6 separate regions of the Homo sapiens genome follow, and regions 1, 2, 3, 4 and 6 are each reported to be linked to region 5. Evidence: microRNA targets listed by miRTarBase, many of them from high-throughput screens and not tested one by one. Region 5 holds a microRNA gene; each other region holds the end of a gene's coding sequence.

Evidence for each region. Region 5 holds the annotated microRNA hsa-miR-6779-5p (CUGGGAGGGGCUGGGUUUGGC, at 2,702-2,722, opposite strand). A microRNA usually pairs through its seed, bases 2 to 8, with sites in the 3' UTR of a target mRNA and lowers its output. Matches are read on the target gene's strand: a 7mer-m8 pairs with bases 2 to 8, a 7mer-A1 pairs with bases 2 to 7 and ends in A, and an 8mer does both.
Region 1: miRTarBase lists PCCB as a target of hsa-miR-6779-5p. The part of its 3' UTR that is shown has no 7-base or 8-base seed match.
Region 2: the mRNA of RPAP1 is a reported target of hsa-miR-6779-5p. Seed matches in the 3' UTR shown: 7mer-A1 at 4,683-4,689.
Region 3: the mRNA of STK38 is a reported target of hsa-miR-6779-5p. Seed matches in the 3' UTR shown: 7mer-A1 at 2,200-2,206.
Region 4: miRTarBase lists ZNF548 as a target of hsa-miR-6779-5p. Seed matches in the 3' UTR shown: 7mer-m8 at 3,953-3,959, 7mer-m8 at 3,335-3,341, 8mer at 2,614-2,621 and 8mer at 2,479-2,486.
Region 6: miRTarBase lists OCIAD2 as a target of hsa-miR-6779-5p. The part of its 3' UTR that is shown has no 7-base or 8-base seed match.

What each region holds. Positions count from the first base shown.
Region 1 is chr3:136,329,301-136,334,595 of GRCh38, forward strand. PCCB (propionyl-CoA carboxylase subunit beta) reads left to right here. Exons shown (of 15, transcript NM_000532.5): 15 at 605-869. The coding sequence ends at 726. Among named protein-coding and RNA genes, the nearest start is that of PCCB, 82 kb to the left of the region's middle.
Region 2 is chr15:41,512,566-41,517,833 of GRCh38, forward strand. It overlaps RPAP1 (RNA polymerase II associated protein 1), which reads right to left. Exons shown (of 25, transcript NM_015540.4): 24 at 5,233-5,268; 25 at 4,611-5,126. The coding sequence ends at 4,977. It overlaps LTK (leukocyte receptor tyrosine kinase), which reads right to left and starts at 1,262. Exons shown (of 20, transcript NM_002344.6): 1 at 1,102-1,262; 2 at 412-555; 3 at 142-313. The coding sequence starts at 1,144. RefSeq lists an enhancer at 94-841 and a silencer at 548-627.
Region 3 is chr6:36,491,598-36,496,892 of GRCh38, reverse strand. STK38 (serine/threonine kinase 38) reads left to right here. Exons shown (of 14, transcript NM_007271.4): 13 at 88-182; 14 at 979-3,001. The coding sequence ends at 1,109. It also overlaps the pseudogene LOC124901558. Among named protein-coding and RNA genes, the nearest start is that of KCTD20, 51 kb to the right of the region's middle.
Region 4 is chr19:57,399,184-57,404,478 of GRCh38, reverse strand. ZNF548 (zinc finger protein 548) reads right to left here. Exons shown (of 4, transcript NM_001172773.2): 4 at 1,487-5,295. The coding sequence ends at 4,590. Among named protein-coding and RNA genes, the nearest start is that of ZNF17, 9.3 kb to the left of the region's middle. RefSeq lists an enhancer at 161-660.
Region 5 is chr17:38,912,411-38,917,705 of GRCh38, reverse strand. MIR6779 (microRNA 6779) reads right to left here and starts at 2,727; the gene lies at 2,664-2,727. LASP1 (LIM and SH3 protein 1) reads right to left here. Exons shown (of 7, transcript NM_006148.4): 5 at 3,231-3,381; 6 at 2,560-2,663. RefSeq lists a silencer at 853-1,031 and an enhancer at 4,835-5,295.
Region 6 is chr4:48,880,696-48,885,990 of GRCh38, forward strand. It overlaps OCIAD2 (OCIA domain containing 2), which reads right to left. Exons shown (of 7, transcript NM_001014446.3): 7 at 4,324-4,870. The coding sequence ends at 4,789. Among named protein-coding and RNA genes, the nearest start is that of OCIAD1-AS1, 23 kb to the left of the region's middle.

The DNA of each region.
Region 1 (5,295 bases), not on the chromosome of region 5:
ACTTACTTGGTAGTTGCTGTTAGCTAGACTCACTCCCCACGTGGCCTCTCACCCTTGAGGAGGCTAGTCCAGGCTTCCTTACATGGTGTCCCGAGAGTAGCAAGGGGGCAAAGGGAAACTGAGGCCTAGATTTGGAAGTTGCACAGTGTCATTTTTGCCACATTTTATAGGCCAAGAAAACTCAACAAGGTTAAGCGAAGGAATACAAATCCACCTCTTGAAGAGAGAAGTGGTAAAGTCACATTGCAGGACTTGTGTACAAGGATGAATTGTTATAGCCATTTTTGAAAACCTAGATGTATTTTCTTTATTTCCTATTGAATTCATTGTGGCAGGATGGAGGCATTGGAGCAAGCAGGGTATAGGGAGGGTGTCCGATTTTCCTTTTCTTGCCAAGTGCTCCTAGGCCAGAAGTTGGGGAGCTGTCAGAACAGGCCAGCTCCTGGGATACAAGGGGGAATTCACAGGGCCTACCATCTCTGTATCAGGTTGGGCACTGCTTATACTGCTGGCCCCAGGGATGGTGCCCAGGCTGAGCAGAAGGTTGAGGGGTGGCATCATCTCGGGATGCAGATGATCCACTCCCTTTTCTGTGCTTCACCAGGGTTTGTGGATGACATCATCCAACCTTCTTCCACACGTGCCCGAATCTGCTGTGACCTGGATGTCTTGGCCAGCAAGAAGGTACAACGTCCTTGGAGAAAACATGCAAATATTCCATTGTAAACAAATCAAAGGAAAAGAAACCAAGAACTGAATTACTGTCTGCCCATTCACATCCCATTCCTGCCTTTTGCAATCATGAAACCTGGGAATCCAAATAGTTGGATAACTTAGAATAACTAAGTTTATTAAATTCTAGAAAGATCTCTTTTGTGCCTTACTGTAAAATTATTTACTTTTTTAAACATTTTAAGTTGTATTTTTTGAGCATAAATTCGATTTTTTTAGGTGGAAATCTGAAAAATCAATACAACTAGAAAGAAAAATAGTACACAGTGTTATCATCTAGAGCTGATTTTTATTTCACACCTCTGGGTATTGTTCTTTTTCCTCTCGAGTTAGTTTTTTTATCCATAGGTGAGATATATAGTAAGTTTTTAAGGCAAAGTATTTCTTAGGCTTAAGTTTCCTTATTTTAAAAATAGGGTAATATGCCCTATCTATCTCCTAATTCCTCCATGAATTGAGGATTAAATGTGATGTTTGCAATTGTGGTATATGTGTTTAGCAGTACAGATGCTCAATAAGGCATAGCACCCTATGTTGACTCAGGTTATTTCCAGAAATGTGTTCTTAAAATTAAAAAAAAACTTTTTAATTGCGAAAATTTTCAAGCCGATAGAAATGTTGCAAGAAGTGTATTGTATCCACTTCACCTAGATTCTCCAGTTGGTAACATTTTCTCCATTTGCTTTATTTCTTCCATACGTAGATATATCTAATAATATATAATATGCATATAAGATATATCTAATTATATTATTAATATAATTAATGTATAATTATATCTAACATGATTATATATATTTATATATTTATATTATGTATTTATACATTATATAATTATATAATTGTATAACATATACAATATAATTATTTAATTGACCCCTTTGAAAGTCAGTTGCAGATTCGTGACCCTGTGTTCCTAGAAACTTGTATCTCCTAGGAACAAGGTCCTTTGTCTTACATAGTCTGTCGTTCATGACGTTGACATTTTTGAGGAGAGCTTACTTGCTGGTTATTTGGTAGAGTGTCCTTCAGTTTGGGATGTCTGTTTCCTGAGGTTTAGATTCAGATAAGACTAACACATATTCCTTTCAGTGCGTCACATTAGTAAGCACATTATGTCAGTTTTTCCTCCTGTTGGTAACTGATTCTGATCACATGGTTAAGGTCGTGGCTGCAAAGGTTTTTCCATGGTAGTTACCATTTTCTCTTTGTAACTGATAACTAATTTGTGGGGTATTATTTAATCTTGTCTGTCAATAAACTTTCACCTGGGCCAGGCGCAGTGGCTCATGCCTGTAATCCCAGCACTTTGGGAGGCCAAAGTGGGCAGATCACCTTAGGTCAGGAGTTTGAGACCATCCTGGCCAACATGGTGAAACCCCATCTCTACTAAAAATACAAAAATTAGCCGGATGTGGAGGCACATGCCCAGCTACTCAGGAGGCTGAGGCAGGAGAATCGCTTGAACCTGGGAGGCGGAGGTTGCAGTGAGCCGAGATCACACCACTGTGCTCCAGCCTGGGTGACAAAGCTAGATTCTGTCTCAGAAAATTAAATAAATAAACTTTCACCCAATAATTTTAGTATTCATTGATGATTTTTGCCTCAATCAATGATTCTGCATTGATTATAAAATGTTGAGTTTCTAACTCTCTCATATTTATTAGTTGGAACTCTAGGTAAGGAAGGGAGCTTTCTTTTCTCCTGTTTTTGTTTTCTTAGTATCATTTTGGACTTGATTTATTTTATTTTATTTATTTATTTTTTGAGAAGGAGTCTCGCTCTGTCGCCAGGCTGGAGTGCGGTGGCGCAATCTCGACTCACTGCAACCTCTGCCTCCCAGGTTCAAGCAATTCTCCTGCCTCAGCCTCCCGAGTAGCTGGGACTACAGGTGTGTGCCACCATGCCCAGCTAATTTTTGTATTTTTAGTAGAGACGGGGTTTCACCATATTGGCCAGGATGGTCTCGATCTCTTGATTTCGTGATCTGCCCGCCTCAGCCTCCCAAAGTGCTTTTAATATATCCCACTGATTTTTTTAGTATTTCGTTATTTTCTGACAAGATAATGCTCTAGGCTTATCTTGTATTTTCCTTGCCCAGCCCAGGAATCAGCAGTTTCTCCAAGGAGTTTCTTTAATAGGTATGTAGTAGTAGTATATAGTAGTTTCTTAGTTTCTTTTAGTAGGTATGTCATTTAGAAGCTAAAATTGGCACTAGGTATTCACACTGATACTGGATATCATTGCTTTGAGGCATTTCAGCAGACAGAACTAGGAAAATTTATGCAAATAAGTGTGTGTATATATATGTGGGACACATGTATATATGAATACATATTTATCATACTTTTAAATCATGAGTTCATACTGAAACTTTTAATCCAACACCATGGGTGCTTCTTTGCCTTCCCCCATTCTGTATTGTCTCTCTTACCACAGCAGTAATAACCCTGGCTCCCATTATTCTCAATATATTTCACTCATTTGCTCAGTGCTACCATAAATACAAGTTTCAGAATCACTACAGCTCTATCAACAATAAACCTTCTAAAGTTCACGACTTCTTTGTAGTTCATTTTGTCTTTAAACTGAAGATACATGGTTAAGCTACCTCAATTAGTAACTGAGTGGTTATCAATATGAATTAGTCCTTTTTGTTTGTAAACCACTTTAAAGCCTTTCCTCCTACACTGTTGACTTGATTTTACTAAGTTAAAACATTAATAGTTTTACCGAACTGGAGATTAAGTTTGAGCAGAAGTACCAACCATGGAGTGCTGATCCAAGATGCCCCCCCACCTCAGGCATCCTCTCTGGTGAAACCCCAGGGCCCTCCCACTACTGATGGCTTTCCCTTGGCTCCAGAGATCTGTAAGCACTGCTTGGACAGTGAATCATTATTTCAAGGTCAACTTAATGTGTGACTGTTTATTCTCCACTTTTCCCATTTCAAAAATATTTTCCCCTACCCCCCATTCCCAGTAGCCCTTAAGAGTCATTCTTTTTTTTTTTTTTTTTTTTTTTTTCTTAAAGCATCTTTCCACTCTCCTTCAGTCACCAATCCTAGTTGGGCTCTGAGGACTTTTGCAGCAGTCTCTTCACTGATCTCTGTGGCCTCCCACTGAGCTGGAAGTCCTGTTCTCAGCTACCATACTAACTCCAGATCCAGATTTTGTTGCATTCCTCTGCTCCAGCGCCACTTCCAGAGCTCCCTGTTCTCCAGAGTCCTTAGCCCACGTAGGTGGTCCTGGACAGTCTGTCCCTCCCTTGCTTGCCTAGTGAGTTTTCTGAGCCCACAGTTCTTGTTTTCGTGATCTCTGCTATGGTCCATAAAAGAGTACATACAAGCTCTTTTTTTTCTTTTTGGAGGTAAGAGTCCAAGAAGTGTTTCACCAGGTTGTGCAGTCTGGACACCGAGATGGTAGAGGGGCTGTAAGATGGTAGAGGAACCAGCTCAGGAGAGCAGCTGGGCTAGCAGCTTTACGGAAGCCTTGGATGGTGGGGAAACTCCCGTACAGAAACTCAGCTGGTCAAAGAAACTCAAAGCCACAAGACCTTGGAAGCTTTGTCAAGTGGACCAGCCTCCATGGACCACGGAATACCTTGAGAGTAATGACAGTTGAGTGTTCTCTTGTGTGGGAATGCCTTCCCCAGCTGGTGCCCTCACCTTAAAGGGAAAAAGAAAATACACTGAATTTTGTAAATGGGAAATACTTGGGTCCACTGAGCTGATAGCTGACAAGTGTCTGTCTTTAAACTGAGAGCAGATAATATGGTGAGCTGTGGTGTAGGAAGCACTGCTAGGGTCTTGCTGGTCCTGCCCCGCCTTGTGTTAATCCAGTTCCTCCTGAGCTACACAGCTGACAAGTGGTGAAGCTGGGATTTGAACTCAGATGGGTTTGACCCCAGCCAAGCCTGTGTTCTGATCATTTCAAAGTACTACCACTCAGCTGATGAGGAAGGTGAGATGGACTTCTAAGGGTTGGCCTAAGAGTAGGGGTGAGGGAGGTTGGTGGTCTGTTCCCCTGGGCTTGTCTTAACCCAGAAAGCTACTACATTTAGACAGCTTTCCTATCTCCCGCATGATTCTCTTGCAAAGCAGTACCAACAGATGGCCAGTCATCTTTTTGAGTTGCTAGAGTAATGGGGAGCACATCCACAATACACCCTTCTAATGCTTGTTAGAAAGTGCTTTTGTTGCAAAGTTCTTCTAGCTTCTTTTTTTGACCCTGTCTTGGTCTCCCCAGCCCAACTTTCTGCCTCTGGTTGCACTGATACTTTGTCCTGGTGCTGGTGCTTAAGATGTGGTCTGCTCAGCCAAAGAAGTCTGTGAAGGATACTCACCCACATGTGGAGTTGATGAATCAGCCCTCTTCACCTATTCAACAGATGTGACTGTTTTGTCTTTCTGGTTCCAAAGGATTTCTGGAGAGCTATGACTTTACCCTTTTAGAAGTATTGGTCCTCATACTCTGTGCACCTCTGATGTCAGCATGGGATTTCTACAATTCCAAGCAGGAGTTGCAGCCACTTGATAGGCAGTGCCTCAGTCTGGGGCCTCTG
Region 2 (5,268 bases), not on the chromosome of region 5:
CCACCTTGAAGGGCACTCAAGGTGGACCTCCCCGCGGAATAGTCCAAGACGCAAGTCGGTGCGCACGTGGACTTCGTTACCCTGAGGGTGAAACCTCCAACTAGCAGGTCACTGTCCACCCTACCTCCGCCGTGCACTTACAGATACTGGCCAGGGCCCGGCACGCGCCACAGCTGCACGCCTCTCAGCTGCCCGGCGGCCCCCACGGTCACCACCACGCTGGTCCCCGCGTACGCCCCGTCACATTGTGTCTGTGTGGGCCCATGCCGGCCGCTGGCCCCGCAGGTAGAAAACAGCCAAGACCCCTCGGTGCCTGAGAGCAAGGAGCGAGGCAAGGGTCGTCGAGCCCCTGGCTGGGCCAGAGGGGTCTGGTATGGTGAGCGAAAGAGGAAGGAGGCGTCTAAAGCTCACCCGGAGAATTCAGCGGGGAGGCTGGCTCCAAGATACTAGGCGGGGCGCTGACTTTCGGGTCCCGGGGGCTGGGACTTGCCAGCGGCAGGGGCGAGGACCGCAGAAAAGTCTCCTGGGACCCCGGGCTAGAGCAGAGAATGGCGCCTGAAAGGTGTTGGGAGAAGGCGCAGGACGTTAAGGCGGGTGGAAATAGGATATGAAAGAAAGAGAGAACCCCGCAACAGCTGCCCTTGCGGTCGCGGCCACACCCGTCACCCGGCCCAGCCGCGCTCTCAGCCTGGAAGCCACTACCCGACTCCGGTCGCAGAAGCCCCGCGGGTGCGCGCTGATAGGTCTGCCAGTTTCTCTCCTCGAGCGCCTTTCCCAGTGAATAACTTAGGGGCCGCAATGAATTTGGTCCTGCAGCCTCCCCAATGCTTTCCTCAACTTAGATTGGTGGCCCCGCCCCAAGGCGGTGCTGAGACCCCAAAGAATGTTCCTCCTTCCCAAGCTGCGTGATCCAGACTCTGGGATTCGCACGCACTTGGCGCTTCTCGGCCCGCACTCCAGAAGCACGGACCGGAGAAATTTGGCTGTGAGAGTTCGAGGCCTCTGGAGGAACCACTGACACCTGGCCTGTTGACCGGCCACCCCCAAGCCTAGGAAAGTGCCTCAGGCTGGACGGTCCCCTGACCGCCAGATAGCACTTACCCGCGGCTCCGAACCACACCAGCAGCTGTCCCCAGCAGCCCATCCCTGTTGGGTCCACCCGGCAACAAAAGCCCTTGCGGTCGCGGCCACACCCCTGTCAACCTAAAGTTGACAGCTCATTTTGCCACGGCAGCCCTGGCCACCACTTACAGGGGTGTGCTGCCGCTGGCGAGACACTCCCCGGACCTAAAGCTGGTCTGGCCACGCCCACCTCAGACCCCAGGACGCCAGAGGAGGAAAGGGAGGGGCGTGTGGGCAGCGAGGTCCCTACGCTTCCGGGAGGAGCCTTAAGGAGTCCCCACCCAGGGGTTCTAGTTTCCAGCCGTCAGATGTGCCGCAGCCTGCTGGGAGCTCCGGTAGGTTTGAGGCCGGAGAGGAGGTGCCCCACGCTTAAAGTGGGAGCCACACCTCGGACACCAGGTGGGGGCTTCCAGGTTCCTGAGGACAGGAGCAGTGGAGTGTGCACTTCATTTGTGGCAGTGGTGGTGGTGGTGAGTGTGTGGCATGCGTCACCACACGTGGGAAGTACTCTAAACTGCTCCAAGTAAGGCCTCATTACCTGCCATTACTTGTGCCTTTTAGTGGTGCCTTTGTGACTGCAAGGCTGAACCTCATTGCTACTCCCAGAAACCTGGATCTCTGTGTTTGCCTCATATAATTCCGTTGCCTGTGTTACCCCTGTGCACAGCCTCTCACTGTGATGGGGTGAAAGACTGGACCAGACGTTAGAAGATCCGAGTGTTTTTAGTAGCACTGAAGGTCAATAGATGATAGGTAGGTAGACCGATCGATCGATTGATCTTGAGCACTAGTACTGGCACCTCTGGTCAATGGGTGATGTAGCACAGGCCACAACTGCCCTGAGAGTTTCCCCACCACCTGCAAAATCATATGAAGGGAAATTGCTCTGTAAGGTACCCTACAAATGTGGGAGCCACTCCCTTCAGGTAGTTTTGTGTCTTGAGTCTTCGATCATTTGCTTAAATGATCATTTGCCGGGTGCGGTGGTTCATGCCTGTAATCCTAGCACTTTGGGAGGCTGAGGCGGGCAGATCACCTGAGGTCAGGAGTTCGAGACTAGCTAGACCATCATGGCAAAATCCCGTCTCTACTAAAAATACAAAATCAGACACACGTGGTAGCGCACGCCTGTAATCCCAGCTACTCTGGAGGCTGAGGCAGGAGAATGGCTTGAACCTGGGAGGCAGAGGTTGCAGAGACGAGATCGCACCATTGCACTCCAGCCTGGGCAACAAGAGCAAAGCCCCATCTCAAAAAAAAAAAAAAAAAAAAAATCCTAACTTGAAAGTCTGAGACCTATGTTTAATACAAAATACTTCAAAAGAGAAGTTATAGTAGTTAGCTACTTGGTAAAGTCTGAGTATAATTCAAGGTGTAAACAGAACAGTGATTTTGTAAAAAGTCTGGTCTCAGCCAGGCGTGGTGGCTTACACCTGTAATCCCAGCACTTTGGGAGGCCAAGGGGACGGTGGGGGTGGGGTGGATCACAAGGTCAGGAGTTCAAGACCAGCCTGGCTAAGATGGTGAAACCCCGTCTCTACTAAAAATACAAAAATTAGCCGTGCGTGGTGGCAGGTGCCTGTAATCCCAGCTACTTGGGAGGCTGAGGCAGAGAATTGCTTGAACCTGGAAGGCAGAGGTTGCAGTGAGCCGAGATTGCACCACTACACTCCAGCCTGGGTGACAGAGTGAGACTCCATCTCAAAAAAAACAAAAAACAAAAAAACCCTGGTCTCTATGCCCTACTTAACACTAGATATCACACTATGAGATCACAGAATTTACCTTGCAAAGTCTCTTTAAGCCACTGCTCTTCAAATTGTGGTTGTGTGGTTTGTTCTGAACATCAGCATCAGTATTACCTGGGAACTTGTTAGAAATGCAGATTCTTGGGTTTCACCCCAGATGTACTGAATCAGCAGCTTCTGGTGGTAGGACCCAGTGATCTGTTTTAAAATATCCTCCAGATGATTTTTGTCACAAAGTTTGAGAATCATTGGTATTTGCTGATACAGTAGTTGCTTAATAAAACCTATTGGGGCCACATGCTGTGGCTCACACTTATAATCCCAGCACTTTAGGAGGCTGAGGTGGGCGGATTGCCTGAGCTTAGGAGTCTGAGACCACCCTGGGCAACATGGCAAAACACCGCTTCTAATAAAAATACAAAAAACTAGCCCGGTGTGGTGGTGCATGCCTGTAGCCCCTGCTACTCGGGAGGCTGAGGCATGAGAATCACTTGAGCCTCAGAAACGGAGGTTGCAGTGAGCCAAGATCATGCCACTACACTCTGGCTTGGGCTACAGAGTAAGACTCTGTCTCAAAAAAAAAAAAGAAAAAAAGGCTGGGCCCAGTGGCTCATGCCTGTAATACCAGCACTTTTGAAGGCTGAGGCGGGCGGATCATGAGGTCAGGAGTTCGAGTTCAAGACCAGCCTGGCCAACATGGCAAAACCCCATCTCTACTAAAAATACAAAAATTAGCCAGGCGTGGTGGCACGCGCCTGTAATCCCAGCTACTTGGGAGGCTGAGGCAGGAGAATGGCTTGAACTAGGGAGGGGGAGGTTGTGGTGAGCTGAGATTGCCCCACTGCACTCCAGCCTGGGCAACAGAGCAAGACTTCGTGTCAAAAAAAAAAAAAAAAAAACCCAAAAAAACCTATTGGATAATTCTGTGTTCAGCAGCTCCATTTATGAAGACTGGGTTCTCTCTACCTACTGACAGGGCTAGGCCTTGGCACACTGCTCTGACTCTGGTTACTTGCAAACACAATAAGTAATCCACACAGCAAAAGACAGTCTAAGAAAGCCTAAAGTTTAGAATTCAGACCAAAGAACAATGTAGAAACTACCAAAATAGGCCAAGTGTAGCGGCTCATGCCTGTAATCTTAGCACTTTGGGAGTCTGAGGTGGGTGGATTGCTTGAGCTCAGGAATTCAAGACCAACCTGGGCAACATGGTGAAACTCCGTCTCTACAAATACAAAAAATTAGCCAGGCGTGGTGGCACTTGCCTGTGGTCCCAGCCACTCAGGAGGCTGAGGTGGGAGAATGGCTTGAGCCCAGGAGGTCGAGGCTGCAGTGAGCTATGATCACGCCACTGCACTCCAGCCTGGGCAACAGAGCAAGACCCTGTCTCAGAAATAGATAGATAGATAGATAGATAGATAGATAGATAGATAGATAGACAGACCGACCGACCGACAGACAGACAGACATGGGGTCTCACTATGTTGGCTAGGCTGGAATTGAATTCCTGGAATCAAGTGATCATCCTGCCTCAGCCTCCCAAGTAGTTGGGACTACAGGTGTGTACCACTGTGCCTGGCAGGCCCCACATTCTTGTTGTCTCCAGATGTGGACAAAGTTTTTACCTCCCACTTATGATTCTTCCCCATCTCTCTCACAGCAGTCCTGCTCCTCACCTGGGATAACCCACCCCCAGATACTAACCCTGAACTAACATGGCTGAAATCAGTCCAGATCAAATTTCCAGGAGATAAAAAACATTTATTTTAATGCACAACTATAGCATTCATATGCCTCAGCCCAGGGCAGGGGTTGGGAGTTAGGTAAGAAGGGATGCATTTAGTTTGCCCTGTCCCCAAAGAGCGGGTAAATAGCTAAGCCACTCTTCACTCCCAGTACAGACCTTCAGAAGCCCCAGATATCAGGATGTAATGGTAGGGCTCACTGCTCTAAAACAGCTCAAACAACCTGCTCCCAGGAAGGCAAGCCTTCTGCTCCTTGGTCTCCTGCCTACCATTAGGACACAATGTTCTTCGTCTGGCCAGACATCTGTTGAAAGGCTGGATACAGGACAACGTACCCATCTTTCCATCTATATCAACTATCCTAGGTCTCTGATACCCCATTTTGGAGCACTGTTGAAGTCAGTCTCTGGAGGTAGTGCTGACGCAGAGGGGGCAACTGAGAATAGAGCTCAAAGCCCTCTGGGAGCGTGGAATTGGGAAGCTTATAGTGCAGGAGGTGCTGCCGGAGACCCTGCAGAAAGGAAAGAAAACTTATGAAGTGGGTAATGAGATCCTGTTGTGGTCTCTGTCCCCCAAGATCCTCTAATATCCCACCCTCCTAATGGCCCTGACCCTACCTCATCTGCCAGCAGCCATGTTTTCTGCAGCATACT
Region 3 (5,295 bases), not on the chromosome of region 5:
CCAGGGGTCTTTTTTGGAGAAAGACTTGATTGGTATGATCCATTTGATTACTAACTTAGTAATTTTTGGCATGTGTATTCTTGGCAGAGAGAGACCTGCTGCAATATCTATTGAAATCAAAAGCATTGATGATACCTCAAACTTCGATGAGTTTCCAGAATCTGATATTCTTAAGCCAACAGGTAACACCACCAGCATTGTCTCCTGCTGCCTTATAAGCACATTATTTACCCCCAATTTTGGGATGATGTTTACAAATCAGGGTAGTGAACATGGAGAGGAATTTCATTTCTTCAGGTTCTTTGTAAGTACTTTTCTAATTCTAATGCTGGGTAGTGGTGAAACCTTGGTGAATGGAAAATGAGTATCAGCTCCCATGTTTAGACTGCTCAACTGGGTGAGTAAGTCACAAAAATCTGTTCTTTTGTTATTTACTAAGTGTTAGGTAATCTGAAATGACAGGAATGGGAAAATAAAACATTAAAAAATTTGTGAAGAAATATGAGATTTAAAGAACATGAGCAAGAAAATGTGGAAAATTCATAGAGTGAGGCCAGGCGCGGTGGCTCATGCCTGAAACCCCAGCACTTTGGGAGGCCGAGGTGGGCAGATCACAAGGTCAAGAGATCGAGACCATCCTGGCCAACATGGTGAAACTCCATCTCTACTAAAAATACAAAAATCAGCTGGGTATGGTGGCACACGCCTGTAGTCCCAGCTACTGGGGAGGCTGAGGCAGAAGGATTGTTTGAACCCGGGAGGCAAGGTTGCAGTGAGCTGAGATGACGCCACTGCACTCCAGCCTGGCGACAGAGCAAGACTCTGTCTCAAAAAAAAAAAAAAAAAAAATTCATAGAGTGAAAAATAAGCTTTCCCAAATAGAAACTGGTGTGTTCTTCATAGTCCTGTCTTCAGCACCGTGAGCAGTCCATTGGAGGCAAGGCAGTGAATCAACTCTCACATCTATTTCTTTCCCAGTGGCCACAAGTAATCATCCTGAGACTGACTACAAGAACAAAGACTGGGTCTTCATCAATTACACGTACAAGCGCTTTGAGGGCCTGACTGCAAGGGGGGCAATACCTTCCTACATGAAAGCAGCAAAATAGTACTCTTGCCACGGAATCCTATGTGGAGCAGAGTTCTTTGTATAACATCATGCTTTTCCTCTCACACTCTTGAAGAGCTTCCAAGAAGTTGATGGAACCCACCAATATGTCATAGTAAAGTCTCCTGAAATGTGGTAGTAAGAGGATTTTCTTCCATAATGCATCTGAAAAACTGTAAACAAAGACAACCATTTCTACTACGTCGGCCATAAACAGCTATCCTGCTTTGGAAGAGAAGCATCATGAGCCAATTTGATAGGTGTTTTAAAAATAACTTGAGTTTTCCTAAGTTCATCAGAATGAAGGGGAAAAACAGCCATCATCCAACATTATTGAGATTGTCGTGTATAGTCATCGAATATCAGCCAGTTCCTGTAATTTTGTGACACGCTCTCTGCCAAGCCCACCAAGTATTTCCTTTATAGCTAAAAGTTCCATAGTACTAAGGAAATAAAGCAATAAAGACAGTCTCAGCAGCCAGGATTCTGGCTGAAGGAAATGATCCGCCACCCTGAGGGTGGTGATGGTAGTTTCTACCCATACCTCAGCCTCAGGCGAGTGGCTTATAGCCTCCATTCATGGTGCACTTTATTTATGGTACTAAGATAAAGACTGTCAATCCATTGATTTATCTCCTCCTGTCCCCCATCTAAAATACCCATGCTGCTTTTCTGAGTGTTGATGGGGGTTACCAGCTTGATCCACTGTTGCTCTTAGAAGGCCCAGAAAGTCTTTGGGCATTGCCAAGAAATCCCGGATTATGTGGAAAACCCTCACTTTCTCTTCACGGCTGTACCAGAAAATCCCTAAGACAGATCTTGCCGTGGACTAGCAATACCTGCAAGTGCTGCCAATGGGAACTCAATTTATTCCTGGGAACCTAACGAGGAGAGCCCAGGCCTAGGCAGGAGGCCTGGAACCCTCTTGGCTAAGGTGCTGTTCCTGTTCCTGCAAGGTCTCCAGAACCCCTTTGGAAATGGTGAAGGAACCAGCCCAATAGAAGTACAGAGCCAGCTGACAAGTCCTTGTAAAGCTCACTCCTCAGTCCTTGGCACAGCCATGTTTTGTCTTCTCTCTTGGTATTTCTTCTCTCCCAACTTTAGCCATTTTGCCTTGGAATCATGATTACAATTTTTTCCTTTGCAGATGCCTTCCTGGGGGATACTCCTCCCCACCCTAAAGGGTCGCCTGCAACTTAGGCGGATTGGGTCTCTCTGCTGTGGCGTTCTCTCTTGAGAGACCCTCTGAATTTTAGCACAAAGTGCCTTCTGTTTCACAGCTGCCACCACCTTTAGAGGAATTTCGTCAGAAAAATGTGGAGGCTCCATATTAATGCATTATTTTTTAAAAAGTTTTGATAACTCTTAAAGCATCATTTGCACCTATGTGGGAACTTTGCCTGTTGCAAAGTATTGTGGCCGAGCTGCAGCTGGGAGCCTGCTTTCTGCCAGTCTTGAGGTTCTGAAGATCAGCTTTGAAAGGAAAGTATGTCCTAGCTTAGCCATTCAGAAGAGAAAAATGGAATATCAGAGTTACAGTTGTCAGTGAAACTACTTTGGATTTTAACCTCTTAGAGGAAGAAAAAAGGTTAGGGAAGTGTCAACTCTGGATGAAGGTGATGTGTTTGCCTCTCAGTCTTTCATTCATAGCCTGCTAGTGAAAAGGAAGTAAATGAGATTCTTTTGTGTGACTTTGTAGTCTCTTTGTATTACCAAATAGTTGGGGTGTTGACTCCTGTGTGTTTTGCAAGAATGTGTGGTAAGCCTGGGTAAAGAGAAGGAACTGCGGTGTTGGGAGAGTCTTTGTGTTGGGGAGTGGCAGGGGATGATTTGTTTCAGGGGAAAATGCCCACATTTTAACTTTTAAACTTCTGAATAAACTGTGTAAAAACAGTAGTGGAAATACGTGGTGTGATTTATTAAACTGATAAGAACAGATACTGCATTTGATCTTAGCAAAAAGGCTGAGAGGGGATTGTGATGTGATTTAAAGCAGATAGTGGCATATAACTTAGAGGCAGAGTGCTGATGGCTGCTTTTAACCCCTTTGTCCACAAACCATTACAACGCCTAATTTCGAGTGTTAATTTCAAAACTGTATCACCATCTTCATGCAAAGTGCTTTTCCATCTCAGGGAAGCTGGGACTGACTTTTGTTCTTAGGGAGCTAGTCTCCTGAATCACTGTCCATATGAAGAGACTTCTCTTGCCCCGACTGCATGTGCTTCTTCCACCCACCTCAGTGTTGCAGGGCAGTGGGCCCTCCCCTCACAGTAAGGCCAAGGGCACACACATCCTGACAAAAGTGCTGTCATCTGGTGGACCTTTTGTACAGCCTTTTACAGCCCAGCCCCATTTTTTCGCAGCCTGCAGTCAACGAGGAATCTCATGAGCTCATAAGATGGAATTGTTGGCTGGGTGTGGTGTCTCACACCTGTAATCCTAGGACTTTGGGAGGCCGAGGCAGGGGGATCACAAGGTCAGGAAAGATTGAGACCATCCTGGCTAACATAGTGAAACCCCGTCTTTACTAAAAATACAAAAATTAGCTGGGCATGGTGGCACGAGCCTGTAGTCTCAGCTACTCAGCAGGCTGAGGCAGGAGAATCGCTTGAACCTGGGAGGCGGAGGTTGCAGTGAGCTGAGATCGTGTCATTGCACTCCAGCCTGGGTGATAGAGCGAGACTCCGTCTCAAAAAAAAAAAAAAAAAAAAAAAAGATGGAATTGTTCAGCCCTGTGTCCATCAGAGCAGGGTTCTGTCTCTGAGATGTTGTATGCTGGAGGAGTCCCATATGCCCCACTTGTTAGCCCCTTTCTGGGTAGGGAAAAGCACCTCAAGGAGTCCAGAAGGGAGGGGCAAAGACCAGCTAGAGTAGAAACTGCAGGCAGAGGAAGCTAAATGCAGCCAGAATGGGTAATGTCTTTCTAAGGCTTATGAATCCTAAGAAACATGTTGGGCAACACTGGCTCAGTGTCGATCCTGTTGACAGAAATTCTGTTTCCTACTCTCATTGGGGTAGTTAGAAAATTGCATACTAAAATGAAACCAAAATCATATCATTTGATGTCTCCCAGTTCAGGAATGCATCACAATTTTCTTTAGTACCTGTTTCTTTGTAGTTGGCTTGGTTGATTGGCATTTATTTAGTACTCCTCTCCCCTGCATCTAAATTACCCAGGCTGCTTTTCTGACTGTTGATGGGTGGATACCAGCTTGATCCATTGTTGCTCTTAGAATTACTTTCAAAGGGCTGGGCATGATGGCTCACGCTTTAATCCCAGCACTTTGGGAGGCTGAAGTGAGTGGATCGCTTGAGCCCAGTTAGTTCAAGACCAACCTGGGCAACATGGCGAAACCCTGCCTCTACCAAAAATACAAAAAATTAGCATGGTGGCACGTGTCTGTAGTCCCAGATGCTCGGGAGTCTGAGGTGGGAGAATCACTTGAGCCTGGGAGGTGGAGGTGGCAATGAGCCAAGATTGTGCCACTGCACTCCAGCCTGGGTAACAGAGTGAGACTCTGTCTCCAAAAAGAAAAAAAAAAAAAAGTCAAAACTAAGATTCACATGAGTTCCTTCAGGATTAATACTCAGGTTCTGCAAAACAGATTGCCAATTTGAAAACTCATCTGTACAGCCTAGTAAGAGTCCCCCTCTGCCATCAGTTGGTAATGCTCTTTGTCAGAATTATTTCCTTGGAACTTTTTTAGATCGCCTTGTCCTGGTTCTCCTGGGCTTCTGTGTAACCCAAGTGGTGTTTTTAATTGAATTCAGAAGGATTCAGTGAATGATATTTTCATTTCCTACAGAGCATATTTCTCTGGAATGATCCATCAAAGCCAACACTGACAAAAACGGCCTTCGTGATGCTTTTTCACGCACATTTTCAGAGAAAAAACACCTTGCCCAAGCAACATTCAAGCTCAGTTCCAGGCAGTCTGGTGAGGCAACAGGTTGCTCACCGTGGTTCTGAATTGCAGATCAGTTTGAGAGAATTCCCAACAACAAGTGGCTTAATGGAATGTAGCATCACCTTATTTACATTAGTGTTGATGTGACCTTGACAAGCCAACCCAGAGTTGTGAGTAGCTTAGTGAAGCATCCCAGAGATGTTAACCTGTTAACCTTTAAAACAAACTCACTCTCCTCCCATCTCCCTGACTTCCTTCTTATTAGTTCCACACTTA
Region 4 (5,295 bases), not on the chromosome of region 5:
TCAGGGCTTGAAATTTTGTGCAGAAGTCCTTCAGACTTTCCCAGGAGGCTTCTCATGGCAATGCAAATTGGCCCAAATCTGCATACGAGCTGATCTTTTGCTTCCTACTAGTCCCTCTGGAGCTCACAAAGTAAAGGTCCCACAAAAAACCATTCATGCTTTTATTCTAGCAGAGACCAATTCTGTTCAAAACCCACTGCATACGGTGACTAGATTTCCAAGAGTTAAGGTAGCTTAAACAATGTGACCTTTATTATCACAAAACCAACCAGGGTATGTGTGTGCATTAGGGGTGAGAAGGAGTTCACAGTGTGGGTGACTGGCAGGTTGGAAAATTCCATCCCAAGTGTCATGATGACACAAGATACTTTCAGTGCCACTTCACCAGGCAGAAACCTCCATGGCTGAAGCACTTCTGCCCAGACATCACTTGGCCTGCTGGACTCACTCAACTAACTCAGTCCGACAGGCTGTGCTTGGCTCATGTTACCAGCCGGATCCTGTGCCCACCATGGCTCTGTGCTTGGCCTACAGCTGGTCCAGGCGTGCTGCGACCGGCTTCTGCCTTGGAAGCTGGTATCTGGACAAGGGGGACATGGCAGCGCCCAAAAACTCAGAGACGCCAGCAACCACAGAGCCCCAAGGGGTGTTACAGCTTTTGCTCAGGGAATCCCAAGGTCTGAGCCCCAAGGAAGCATTACAGCTCATTTGTGTTACAGCTTGTCTGTTCCCACCATCCACACACTTCAGTGAATGGGGGTGTGTCACAGCTTGTTTGGTCCTGCCACCCTGCTCCAGCCCATGGCTCATGGGCTGGCCTGGCCCTGCTGCCGCTGCTTCCTGTCACATGGGGTGGCTGCCTGGGGCTGGTGGAAGGCAGGAGGGCTACAGTGTTACAGCTCCTTTCACACCCGCCATTTGGCAGTTTCCGAGTTCTTGTCCCATGACCAAGAAGAATGATGTTATGTGGACACCAGAGAGTGAGCAAGGCAGGGAACTTTATTGAGTGGCAGAAAAGCTCTCAACAAGAGGGGACCTGAAAGTGGGTAGCCCAATGTGTAGCTGGGCCCAGGGTTTTTATGGGCTCAGAATGGAGACTGCATACTGATTGGTCCATGGGTGGGCCTGGAAAAAGCACCATTTGATTGGCTAAAAGGCATTGAGGAAGTTCTCACTCCAGTCATGGACTCTACTTGGAACTGGCAGCTCAATTTTCAGGCTTTAAACTGTCGTTGGCTTGAAGTTTGGGTTTCACCAGGGACCCGTCCTTAGTCTGCCTAGCAATGTATCTGCCTCCTACCACTATCAATGAGATAACCAATACTTTCCCCTGGAGAAAGGAAATTTCTGCAATCTGCCTGCCAAAGCCAGTCCATGTCTTCTGTCCAAGGCTGATGTCTATGCCCTAATCAATCATAGGAGGGGGGTGAGGACTCCAAAGTGTTCAAGTGACTAGTGAATTCTTCAGATAGAGAACACAGCATGCTGCCATAACTGCATTTTAATGTGACTAAAATGCTACACACCATGGCTCTTTGCCAGTTGGTAGAAAAGAGATGACATTTTTAAATAGGCACTGGCAGGGGCATAACTCTGGGAAAGGCCCCAGTCAAGTTGAAAACTGCAACACAGTTCACAAAATCTTCCCATATATCTGGCAGTACAGACAATATCCCTAGTGTGGATGTTCAGATGCAGGAGGCTCAACTGCTGGCTCTCTCCCTAAAAAGCTAATCTCCAAAGCATTGCTCTACTGAGTTATCATGTTAACAAGGAAAGATGACATTGCCTTCACTTCTACTTTTCTCTAGGGTGAACATGCTGGCACGAAATGAGGTTATGCTAATGGCTAAAGATTTTCCAACATTCACTAGATTCATAATACTTTTCTGGGTTCTTCTGATAGCAAGAAACAACCCAATGTCACTTGGATACACAAAATCAGAACAATTTATTACCTATAGCTAAGAATGAGAGAACTTGGGTAGGGTCCCACAGAGGGTTGCATCTGAAACACAGTAACAGCAACCTGAGGCTGCAGGGGACAACTTAGGTAAGGCAAGCGGATTGCATTAGCTACGTTTTCCATGTTCCCCATGGATTGGCTAATTTGAGTAATTTGGGCTGGAATACAGCAGTCTGGAGTGTGAAAGCCCACTAGCCTTGTCCTCAACACTGAGTCTCACACACACACACCTAAAATGTGTGGTACTGACATAAAGACAGACATATGACCAATAAAATAGAGAATCCACATATAAACCATGGCATATATGGACAAATGATTTTGACAAGTGTGCCAAGACTACTCAACAGAGGAAAGATGCTCTTTTCAAAAAATGGTGCTTGGAAAACTGGATAGCCACATAAAGTGGACTTTTGCCTTAAACCATATGCAAAAATGAACCCCAAGTAGATTAAAGATCTAAATGTAGCCAGGCACAGTGCATTACAACTCCTGCCTGTAATCTCAGCAATTTGGGAGGCCGAGGCAGGGGGATCACTTAAGGCCAGAAGTTTAAGACCAGCCTGGCCAACATGGCAAAACCCCATCTCTACTAAAAATACAAAAATTAGCCAGGTGTGGTGGTGTACACTTGTAATCCAAGCTACTTGGGAGGCTGAGGTGGGGTGATGGCTCGAACCCAGGAGGCGGAGGTTGTAGTGAGCTGAGATTCCACTACTGCACTCCAGGCTGGGTGACAGAGCAAGACTCTGCCTCCAAAAGAAAAAAAAAAAAAAGACCTAAATGTAAGACCTTCAAATATAAAATTCTTAGAATAAAGCATAGGGAAAATGCTTGGCATTGGATTTGATACTAATTTTTTTTAATATATAACATCAAAAGCCCAGGTAACAGAAGTAAAAATAGATAAAATGCACTACAGTCATCCCTTGGTGTCTGTGGGGGACTGATTCCAGGACCCCTTGTGGATACCAAAATCATCTGATGCTCAAGAGGTCCCTCACATAAAAAGGCATAGTGTTTGAATATAACCTACACACATCTTCCTATATAGATTATCATTAGGTTATTTATAACTTCTAATACAATGTAAATGCTATGTAAATATTTATTATACTATATAGTTTAGGGAATAATGACAAGAAAAAATGTCTGTTCATGTTTAGTACAGATGCAACTACCCTTTTTGTTTTCCAAATATTTTTGATTAATGATCACTGCAATCCATGGATGCTCCAAATACTTTTGATCCATGGTTGCTTCGATCCATGAATACAGAACCCACAGACAGAAAGAGTCAACAGTACATCAAAACTTAAAATTTCATCAAAGGACACAATCAACAGAGCGAAAAAGCAACCTATGGACTGGGAGGTAATATGTAAAAAGCATATATTTGGTAAGGAGTTAATATCCAGAATGTATAAAGAACTACAACTCAACAACAAAAAGCAAATAGTCCCATTAAAAATGGAAAAAAAAGACTTGAATATTTTTCCAGATACACAAATGCCTAACAAGCACATGAAAAGATCCTCAACATCATCAATCATTCACAAAATAAAAATGAAAGACACTATAGATTCCACCTCACATCCAACAAGATAGCTGCTATCCAAAACAAAAGGCACTACAAAAAACCCCAAAAACAGAAATAGAAAATGAACAATGTTGGTGAGGATGTATATAGATTGCAATCCTTGTGCACTGCTGGTGGGAATGTAAAATGGCACAGGTACTATGGAAAAATTTTCCCAAAAATATTAAAAATAGAAATCCTGGCCAGGCGCGGTGGCTCACGCCCGTAATCCCAGCACTTTGAGAGGCCAAGGCAGGCAGATCACAAGGTCAGGAGATCAGGACCATCCTGGCTAACACGGTGAAACCCCGTCTCTACTAAAAATACAAAAAAATTAGCCAGGCGTGGTGGCAGGCACCTGTAGTCCCAGCTACTCGGGAGGGTGAGGCAGGAGAATGGCATGAACCTGGGAGGCGGAGCTTGCAGTGAGCCAAGATCACAGCACTGCACTCCAGCCTGGGTGACAGAGCAAGACTCTGTCTCAAAAACAAACAAAAAAAAAAAATAGAAATCCTATATGATCCAGCACCACCATTTCTGAGTATATACCCTATAAGAATTGAAAGTAGAATCTTGAATAGACACTTGTACACTCATCTTCATAGCAGCATTATTTCAATAGGCAAAAGGTGGAAGTAGCCCAAGTATCCACTAACAGATGAATGGATAAATAAATGTGGTATATAAATACCATAGAATATTATTTCACCTAAAAAGGAAGGATATTCTGACACATTATACAACATGGGTGAACCGTGAAGACCTTATCCTAAGTGAAATAAGCCAGTCTCAAAAGATAAATACTGTAGAATCCACTTATATGAGGTACAAATATATATCAAATTCATAGATATCTATTGGTACCTCATATAAGTACCATAGAGTATAGAAATATAGTTGAGACATTTCTGGGGAAGTAGGGAAGGGGAATGAGTTGTTGTTAATGGGTACAGCATTTTACTTCTTGGTAAGAGGAAAAATGTTCTGGAGATTAGTTGCATAAAAATGTGGAATTTATATAACATTACTACCCAATTACAATAGTCAATGGTAAACTTTCTCCATTGTGAAATCTCTGATGTTTAATGAGGTTGGAGTTTTAGCTAAAGAATTCCCCACATTCATGGAGCACACAAGCCTCTCTTCACTGTGGATTTTCTGGTGATGAACCAGGTGAGACTTTCTAATAAAGGCCTTCTGGCATTCGCTGCACTCATAAGGTCTTTCTCCACTGTGGATTTTCTGGTGCTCAACAAGTATATGCTTGTGGCTAAAGGCTTTCCCACACTCTCTGCACTCGTAAGGCCTTTCTCCAGTGTGATTTCTCCAATGTTTAATGAGGTTGGAGTTGTAACGAAAGAATTTCCCGCATTCGCTGCACTCATAAGGCCTTTCTCCCGTGTGGACTCTCTGGTGTCTAATGAGCCTGCAGTGGTACCTAAATGATTTCCCACATTCACTGCATTTATAAGGCCTTTCTCCAGTGTGATTTCTCCAATGTTTAACAAGGCTGGAGTTGTACCTAAACAATTCCCCACATACACTGCACTCATAAGGCCTTTCTCCAGTGTGAATTCTCTGATGTCTAATGAGTGTGGAGATATACCTAAAAAATTTCCCACAATCATTGCACTTATAAGGTCTTTCTCCGGTGTGAACTCTCTGATGTTTAATGAGTGTGGAGCTGTCCATAAAGAATTTCCCACATTCCCTGCACTCATACGGCCTTTCTCCGGTGTGAACTCTCTGA
Region 5 (5,295 bases):
GTCTCAAAAAAGAAAAAAAAAACAGAAAAAACATGCCCTGTATGCTATTATTTGTATGATTATAAGCACCAGTAGTTTCTTTTAGAAGCCATGATGAGTCCTGTCCAAGTTCAGGACAAAGATCTTTCCTTGGGAGAAAAATCTTCAGAGGACAGAAGACGAGTCTATCAGGTTCCACCTTCCAAGCCTCAGCCAAAATCTGCCGCTTAAGCCCTAGATCTAGGTAATGTTCAGTAAGGCACACAAAAACCTACAGCGCCACCTACTACCAGGATGGAGTTTAAAAAAAGAAAGAGGAAAAAAAAAAGAAAAATAAATCCTATAGCTATAGACAACATTCTACCTCCCCTGACCTTCACTGCCCTTGACTGGTCTCTGAGGCTCCACAGGACAGTTTGAAACCAACAGGTCTATGGGATAAGAAGTCACACCTCCCATGAAGTAACCTCAGTCTCTCTCATCACCAATTCTGCCTCTATCTTGGGCTGAGCCACTCCCATCCATGCCTATATCCTGCAACAGCCTCCTGACGGTCTCCCTGCTTCTACCCTCAAACCACTGCCTCTTCTCAACACAGCTGCCAGGGTGGTCTTCCAAAAACCTATGTCGCTCTGCACAGATCACAGGTCACAGAGGCCTTCCTGGGGCCCACAAGTCCCTGCATAATCGGACCTCCCACCCTCTCCCACTCTAGTCAATTCGGGCTTCCTGCTGCTCCCTGAACTTTCCTAGAATATTCCTGCCTCAGAGCCTTTGCACTTCCTGTCCTCGTTGCACGGCTCACTCCTTCCTTTATTGAGGACTTTGCTCAAATGTCACGTCTTTTTTTTCTTTTTTTTTTTCTAGCTGGAGTTTTGCTCTTGCTGCCCAGGCTGGAGTGCAAATGGCGTGATCTCGGCTCACTGCAACCTCCACCTCCCAGGTTCAAGCAATTCTCCTGCCTCAGCCTCCCGAGTAGCTGGGATTATGAACATGCACCACCATGCCGAGCTAATTTTATATTTTTAGTAGAGACAGGGTTTCACCATGTTGGCCAGGCTGGTTTCGAACTCCTGACCTCAGGTGATCTGCCCACTTTGGCCTCCCAAAGTGCTGGGATTACAGGTGTGAGCCATCGCACCCGGCCAAATGTCTTTTTTCTTTGGAGATATTGCTCTGTCACCCAGGCTGGAGTGCAATAGTGCAATCTTGGCTCACTGCAACCTCTGCCTCTCGGGTTCAAGCAATTCTACTGCCTCAGCCTCCCGAGTAGCTGGGATTACAGGTTACAGGCATACACCACCACACCTGGCTAATTTTTGTATTTTTGGTAGACAGGGGGTTTCACCATGTTGGCCAGGCTGATCTCGAACTCCTGACCTCAAGTGACCTGCCCGCCTTGGCCTCCCAAAGTGCTGGGATTACAGGCGTGAGCCACCACCCCCGGCCAAATGTCTTAATCCAGCTGCTTTCTATCCATCCCTCACCCTGCTGTCTTTCTCTTCACAGCGTGTCACCGCTGACCTTATGTTATACACCTATTTTCTTATTGTTTTCTTGTTTGTCCCCCTGACTGGAATGTAAGCCCCCAGAGGGCAGAGAGGTGGCTTTATATTCAGAGATGGACCCTACACATCCAGGACAGACCCATTGAGGAGGGAGGGACTGGCTGGGCTGCCTGGAACCTTATACTTCAGACTAACTCTTGCGCCCACAGTGCCCTGGGCAGTCCTAACATCCCTTTGTTTGTGTGCCCAGAGCATCAGACTCCAGCCAGCCATTATCTCAGGCGATTTTATCTCTCTAAGTATCTGTTCTGCTCCTACGTGAGCTACTTTGAATTCCCAGGCACCCAGCCTGGAGGCGCTGAGCCTGCCAGGAGCTTGGTAAGGGTGGCTCAGCGGCACCCATGGGTGGAGTGAGTGGCAGGACTTACAGAGCCGGGACTTCAGCTCTGAGGGCTCAGGAAGCCTGATCTCACCCCATTCCTGCTGGGCTTATTCACTTGCTCTAGGCCTGGCTCAGAGTAGGTGAACCAGACGGACGCTGCCAGGGTCCCCAGCCCAGCAGGGGACACAGAGAAGGTGACCAACACGAAGAGCTCTTTTTAGTTGGAAAAAGTGCTCTGAAGGCAGCCAGCGGAGTCGAGTGATGCAAAGCATCAGGGTGATGCGCTTTACACGACATGGCTGGGGAGGCCCCTCAGAGGCAGGGGCAGCCTGAGAGCTGAAGGATGTGGGGGCCATCCTCATGAAGCGAGGAGAGCAGCGCCCAGTGCTGGAAGGCCCCATGCAGAAAGTTGCCTTGTGTGTTCCCAGGTAGCTGGGGTAAGGAAACCCCACCCAAAGCAGGGTGAGCAACCTGCCCATGGTACACCAGGGCTGGAACGCAGGGCCCCAGTCCCAGCCAGCCTCTGCCCACTACGCCAACCAATTTCCTCTCTGCTCACAAGGCTGAGATCCTTATCATCACACACAACAGAGGGTGGGTGCAAAGGTCAGGAGAATCCATGAGCTGTGTCCAAGCCTTCCCGAAGGACCCCCTGCCTCTGGCCTCTCCCCTCCGGCCAGGGTTACTCACCCCGCCACCACCTGGGGCGCTGCGCTGTATGGAGACTGGGGCTGCAGGCTCCTTGTAGCCACCATAGGACTGGGCCACCGGCTGCTGCTGGGGCTGCTGGTAAACTGGAAGATGGGAGGAGACAGGGCTTGGAAACTGTCCTGCCAAACCCAGCCCCTCCCAGAGCTCCCGAGAAGTCCATACCATGCACTTCCACCCCGCCCCCAACCTGGCTCAAGCCCCACAGCTCAAAGGCTGATGTCCACGTGTGCACATTTGCCTGTGTGTTGTATCCCACGCAGGGGCTCTGAGCCCCATGACCTGGGGGCCTCTCCTTTCAATCCTCTTGGCCCAGTACAGGCCTGACCCTGGTGCTCACGTCCTCATTCTGGATGAGAATGGAACTTGGGGTCTTGGGAAGCAGTCTTTTCCTCGCCTGCATGCGTGCGTGCATGTGTGTGTGTGTGTGTGTGTGTGTGTGTGTGTGTGTCTGTCTCTCGCCGACTTCCTCCCCACCCCAGCTGGCCCGGCCTCAGGTCCTCTGGTCCCCTCTTGCACACAAGAGGCATAATCGCCTGTTGATTAAGAGCAAGGCTCCGGAAGGTGTATCTGTCTGTCTGTCTTCTCCTGGCTTCCTCCCCACCCCACTGGCCTCGCCTCAGGTCATCTGCACCAACAGGACCTGCACTCACCCGGGGCACTGGTCGGGATGTGGTGAGGCTGCTGCTGCTCCAGGGGCCGCCGGTAGCTGCTGCCGTCCTGTGAATCCCGACGCTCTGGCTCCATGCCCTCGCCCCCGCTAGGGCCCATGCGGCTCTTCTCAAACTCCTCATGGTATTTTATCTGCAAGGTCAGAAGGCACTAGGTGAAGGGTCCCACTGCAAACCACCCAGTTCCTTCCCGTGACCCTCAAGATCCCAGGATGGGAGAGACTACCCAAGAGCTTTGGGTACAGAAAGCCAGGTCTCGCTCTGGAAGCACCAGCTGTGTGTCCTTGGACAAGCTACCTAATCTTGCCAAGCCTCAGTTTTCACCTCTGCAAAATGAGACACCAGTCTCCCTCAGACACTGTTGGAGAATGCAATGAAATGACCGATGTAAAAGGACCATGAGAACTGAAGAATCAGACCAAAGTGAGTGGTCCCTTTTCTTTTTTTTTTTTTTTCGAGACGGAGTTTGGCTCTGTCGCCCAGGCTGGAGTGCAATGGTACGATCTCAGCTCACCGCAACCTCCACCTCCAGGGTTCAAGTGATTCTCCTGCCTCAGCCTCCTGGGCGGCTGGGATTACAGGCGCCTGCCACTACGCCCAGCTAATTTTTTGTATTTTAATAGAGACAGGGTTTCATCATGTTGACCAGGCTGGTCTCAAACTCCTGACCTCAGGTGATCCACCCGCCTCGGCCTCCCAAAGTGCTGGGATTACAGGCGTGAGCCACCGTGACCGGCCAAGTGGTCACTTTTATATGCCTGCGGCAGGGGCGGGGCTGCTCTGTTTCCGCCTGGGTCCACAGTAACCACAGCAGCAGCCCGTTTCCTGAGCTCTTACTGCGCCAGGGCCGTGCTAGGTGTTTTATGTCACAGGCTCATGTGAGCTCGTCAGCGCCCCTGAGGGGTAGATTGCAGACCCCATGTAACAGGCAAGAAGGAAGCGAAGGGATTGATAAGTGAAGTGAGTGGCCCAAGATCACAGATTCCAGAGCCTTGCTCTTCATCAACAGGCGATTCCACCTCTTGTGTGCAAGATGTCGTGGGTACTACAGCCTAGGATGCTCCGCTGAGAATCCCAGCCTTTAGGGATAAAAACTGCCAGACCCTCCCTGAGGGCGGGACATTGTCTTGGATGGGCTCCTTCTCGGGTCAGGTTCCAAAAATGAGCAGAGAGGCCCAAAGAAGTCATATCCCTCAGGACCACCCCACTAGGCGGGCATGTGAGGCTCCAAGCCTTCAAGTCAGTCTCTTGCCCCCACAGTGCTCTACTGGCTACAGAGTCCCCCACCTTGACCACCACCACCCAGGAGTCTTGAGTTGGGCCTCATGTTGTTTGAGGGCTGTGACTGTGCCTGCCTGGGGCTGGCTGCATTAGCCATCAAGGTCAGGAGGGCAGGGGAGGCAGGTGCCCACCAAGCCAAGCTGGGGAGGGGAGGGAAGCTGCACTCTGCCCAGACCCCTTGGGTGCTATGGTGGAGGACTTGGCCAGTTTGGGGGAACCAGAGCCCCTGCTACCTCCATCAGAGACCTAAGCAGGGTCAGCCAGAGGAAGCCCCACCTCCACTACCAGAAAGAAACCTCAGGGTCAACTGGCCCATTTGTGTCCAGAGCCTCGGCGCCAGCTCAGTCCTCTTAGCCAACTGAGTTAGAGAGAAATGGTCGTTCATTCACCTTGTCTTCTTCAGGCTGAGTCCCATGGTGGGACGAGAACACCGGCCTCGGTGTTCCCTGCTAGATCCAGATCCTGATTGGCCCCAGGCTTCCTCCACCTCCCATCCCCCATGGCACCTTCTCCAGACACAAGCCCTTTCCTCCTCTCAGGTCTGAAAACTGTCCAGATGGCCTTCTGGGGCTGTGCCAGACTCCCAAAGACAGGCCTGCCAAGGTCTCCTGGATCTCAGCCCAAGAGCCAGACCCTGGAGAATCACGGGTGACTCCTTGTGCTTGCGGCACCCTGACCCTGTGGCAACCAGATCCTGCGGCACCCTGGCCCAGCGGCACCCTGGCCCTACCCTGACCCTGTGGCACCCTGGCCCTACTCTGACCCT
Region 6 (5,295 bases), not on the chromosome of region 5:
ACTTAATCAAATCACGCAAGATACATTTTTATTACTTTCATAATGTTAAACTAGACAAACCATTCTGACAGCAAAGGAAGAGAATATCTTTGTTTAAATGAGAATTTTAAAATATATAATAAGCATTATATACAGTATATTATATGCTACATATTTATATATGTAATAATATACAGTATAATATCTATAACATATGAGTCTTTCTGGAAACTGATCTATTTTAATAAGAGAAACAAACACAAAAGGATTATTCCACTATTTTTTAAATTATAAAACATACATTTCATTAGAATACAGTTTATAGTAATAACTTTTGAACTCCAGGATCACACAAACTGAGGCAAAATTTAGAACAAATGATCACCATAGCTAATGGTGGAATGTTTGGTTAATGCCTTTGAAACTAAAAATATCTTGAAAGCATCCTTTCTAGTCATCCACTTGTATGTAAGCCAAGAAAGAAACACACTTCTAGGCATCACTGGAGTGCCATGGAGGTGCATGGAATTAAGGAAATCATTTTGATCTTTTCTGGTCGAGTAAGGATCTTCCTTATTTTCATTAGTGTCATTACCCGCTGTTAAAAACATTTTATTATGTTGTCTAGAGGAACTACAAATGTGTTAGACAAGGTTTGCTGATTTCAGATATCAAGTTTGTCTCTTCTTACAGGTGCATCCGTGGACAAACTAATGTTACATTTTAAATTCCATTAATCAAATTCAAAATAATGGGAAGGTTTGCATTCTCGTCACTGTAGAATATCAGTCCATATCATCCTAGGGAAAGTTTGCCAATAAAATTGGTTAGACATCCAACTTTTACTACCGTGTAGTCTCATCAGTTCTTTCTTTCACGTGAGTCTATCTACGATTTTATCTTGCTGTTCTTTTCCAAGTTTTTTTCTTTTTTTTTTTTTATCATGAAGGTACTGCTTTCATAAGCTTGTGACCAGCTTTGTGATGAGTGTTGGTAATGGTGAAATGTCAAAAGGCAGGTGCTGTTCCTTTAACACAAGAAACAGACATTCTCCCCCAGGTACTAGCTTTCTAATATGTACAATAGATAGGCAGCTGGGTGCGGTGCCTCATGCCTGTAATCCTAGCACTTTGGGAGGCTGAGGCAGGTGGAACCCTTGAGGTCAGGAGTTTGAGACCAGCCTGGCCAACATGGTGAAACCTTGTCTCCACTAAAAATGCCAAAAATTTAGCCAGCCGTGGTGGTGCATGCCTGTAATCTCAGCTACTGAGGAGTCTGAGACAGGAGAATCACTTGAACCTGGGAGGCAGAGGTTGCAGTGAGTCAAGATTGTGCCACTGAAGTCCACCTGGGCGACAGACAAGCAAAACAAAACAAAACAAACGAACAAGAAACCCAAAAAAATAGCAGCAGAATAATCAAAGCCTCTTGGATGAACTTCCAGTTTTTTCCTTATTGATTTTCTTTCACTCTAAGATAGATCGTCATGATAAACTGCTTCAATGAATAACTTCTCTACGTAGGAAATGTAGAAAGCCCAAGCAATAAACCCAATTTGATTGAGAAGAACTATGAAGATGTCATCTGTAAAAACAATGCTCCTTTCAACAATAATAAATGTATTGGCCAGGTGCAGTGGCTCACCCCAGTGGCCCAGCACTTTGGGAGGCTGAGGCAGGTGGATCACGAGGTCAGGAGATGGAGACTATCCTGGCTAATACGGTGAAACCCCATCTCTACTAAAAATACAAAAACTTAGCCAGGCTTGGGGGCGGGTGACTATAGTCCCAGTTACTTAAGAGGCTGAGGTAGGAGAATGGCATGAACCCGGGAGGCAGTTGGCCGAGATCGCACCACTGCACTCCAGCCTGGGTGACAGAGCAAGACTCCGTCTCAAAAAAATAAAAAAAAAATAAAAATAAAAATAAAAATAAATAAAATAAATGTATCTTTCCCCAGTACCTTGGGATAGATTTTTTACATTGACTTGCTGTGCTAAGCAATGTGAAATGTTCTGATCCCTAGGAAATCATTTTCTGGGGAGTAGGAAATAAATGTGCCCAATTCTGAATTTTTGCCAATAGCTGAGATAACAAAGAGTCACCAACTGCTAGTTATCAGAGACAAGAGTTAAACTTGCATTTAAGATGATAGGATATTGGCTTTGCATTCTGATTTACAGAAATAAAACTTTATGGACTGAAAAAATAGCATACGTAATATAAAAAGAGGCTTACTCTTAATGTTCATGTAAAAATTAAAACTTCTGTATAATTTGATGTTTAAAATAAAATATTTCATGTAAACGATTAACTTTTAATGAAGTTTCTCTTTTAACTTCCATGATACATGTTCAAGATGTATTAAGTAAAACCCAAATGTGTACATACACAAACCTCTTATATATCTATCTATCTATGTATCTATCTATGTATCTATCTATCTATCTATCTATCATCTATCTATCTATCTATATATATATATATTTTTTTTTTGAGATAGAGTCTCGCTCTGTCACCCAGGCTGGAGTGCAGTGGCACAATCTCTGCTCGCTGCAACTTCCATCTCCCGGGTTCAAGCAATTCTCCTGCCTTAGCCTCCTGAGTACCTGCGACTACAGGCATGTGCCACCACACCGGGCTATTTTTGCATTTTTAGTAGAGGTGGGGTTTCATCATATTGGCCAGGCTGGTCTCAAACTCCTGACCTCAAGTGATCTACCTACCTTAGCCTCCCAAAGTGCTGGGATTACAGGTGTGAGCCACTGCACCTTGCCTATATATTGATATAAATGATGATACATATATAAAGCATTCTTCTGAGAAGTTGCAAAGATGCAAGAGTAGTTTTTCTGTAGGGCTCAGACAACCTGTCATACATAAAACAAAAGGTTCCCACATGGAAGGGTTTCTTTTTTTTTCCTTTCTTTCTTAATTTTTTTTTTTTTTTTTAGACAGAGTCTCACTCTGTTGCCCAGAGTGGAGTGCAGTGGCACTATCTTGGCTCACTGCAACCTCCACCTCTCCAATTCAAGAGATTCTCGTGCCTCAGTCTCCCCAGTAGCTGGGATTACAGGCATGCACCACCATGCCCGATTAATTTTTGTATTTTTAGTAGAGACAGCATTTTACCATGTTGGCCAGGCTGGTCTCAAACTCCTCCAGTGATCTGCCCGCCTTGGCCTCCCAAAGTGTTAGGATTACAGGTGTGAGCCACTGCACTTGGCCAGATTTTGTTATTGTTGTTTTCATGCAACAAATCTGACAGGAGAATAGGAGTCCAACCCCTGGAGTTGCATTGGCTGCCTCTGAACTCCCTAGAATTCTAAATTTATCATTCCATGTATTAATTATTCCAGTGATTCCTCCCATAAATAAGTTGTTCCTTGGGGAAAATGAGAGACAATTTGGGAAGTTGTGTTTCTTGTTTCAGGCCACTAGTAGTATATGAAAGAACCCCATTCTTGAGGGCTGCCCATAAGCATGTGCCCATTTGCTAAGCAGATAACCTAAAGACAAAGAGGCCAGGCATGGTGGCTCACACCTATAATTCTAGCACTTTGGGAGGCAGAGGTAGGTGGATTGCTTGAGCTCAGGAGTTCAACACCAGTCTGGGAAACATGGCAAAACCCCCCCTCTACAAAAACTACAAAAATAGTGGGCATGATGGCACACACCTGTAATCCCAGCTACTTGGGAGGGTGAGGTGGGAGGGTGGCTTGAACCTGGGAGGTCGAAGCTGCAGTGAGCTATGATCATGCCATTGCACTCCAGTCTGGGTGACAGAGCAAGACCCTGTCTCAAAACAAAAACAAAAACCAAAACAAAAACCAAAACAAAAACCAAAACAAAAACAAAAACAAAAACAAAAAAAGACAATGGTCACTTCCAAAACTCCACTGTTGAACCATACTGTTGAACCATAAGGTCACCTGGAGCACTGAAAGGATAGTTGATTCATATTTTGACCCTTTCCAACAAAACACTTTTCACTAAGTTAAAAATGTTGCCCCTACATTTTAGGAAGCCCTTCTCATACCTGTAAGTCAGTCTTGTCCTGTTTCTATCTCCATACACATTAATTTTCTTGGGGTCATGACTTCCTAACTTCTTCAACATTAATTCCAATTCTCTATCAGATAACTTAAAACACTGAAAAAAAAAGCAGAGTAAAAGAAAGAATAGAGGCTAATCTGAGAAGACTTAATTCTCTTATTTAGCTGTAAGCAAGTTGGGGTGGGGGTGCAATGTCATTTGTGTGTGTGTGAGGATTCCTAACATGTTGTGTGTGTGTGTGTGTGTGTGTGTGTGTGTGTGTGTGTGTGTGTGTGTGATGGAGTCTAGCTCTGGCACCCAGGCTGGAGTGCAGTGGCACAATCTCTGCTCGCTGCAACTTTCGCCTCCTGGGTTCAAGTGATTCTCCTGCCTCAGCCTCCCTCTCAGTAGCTGGGATTACAGGCATGTGCCACCACGCCTGGCTAATTTTTATATTTTTAGCAGAGATGGGGTTTCACCATGTTGGCCAAGCTGGTCATGAACTCCTGACCTCAAATGATCTGCCTGCCTCGGCCTCCCAAAGTACTGGGATTACAGGCATGAGCCACTGCGCCATGCCCCGACATGTTCTTAAAGAGCAGAAAAACATGTAACGCTTAGTTCACTTGAAAGCCTTCCACGGAATACATTTCAGTGAGTGACAGACACAATGTTTTTGTTCCATTAGAAGTATTTTATTTTAAAGTACACTTGAAATTTTAAATGTGTACAAATTCAGAGGTTTAAAAAACTTCGAAAGTCACAGACACAGAATTTAGGAAGCTGAAGGCTGAGAGTCTCCCTTCTCACTTAATCCATGCTTTATTTTGCATTCCTCACAGGTAAGGAGGCAGTGCCTAGAAGAGAAGCAAAAATAGACAGCGGTTTGTACTTTGACACTGGAAGCCCTAGTCTTTACATAACATATTATTCTTATTATTTTAACATAATCTTTTTAATAGAGATGTGGGGGGAGTCTATCTATGTTGCCCAGGCTGGTCTCGAGGGCTCAAGGGATCCTCCCACCCAACCCTCTTGAGTAGCTGAGACTACAGGCATGAACCACTGCACCTGGCTTTAACACAATATTAGAAATATAGTCTATGCTAAAGTTCACTAGCCTTGTTTTTTCAGAAATAATAGGAGTATTCTCCCATTCTGTAGGTTGCCTGTTCACTCTGAAGGTAGTTTCTTTTGCTGTGCAGAAGCTCTTTAGCTTAATAACATCCCATTTGTCAATTTCGGCCTTTGTTACCATCGCTTTTGGTGTTTTAGACATGAA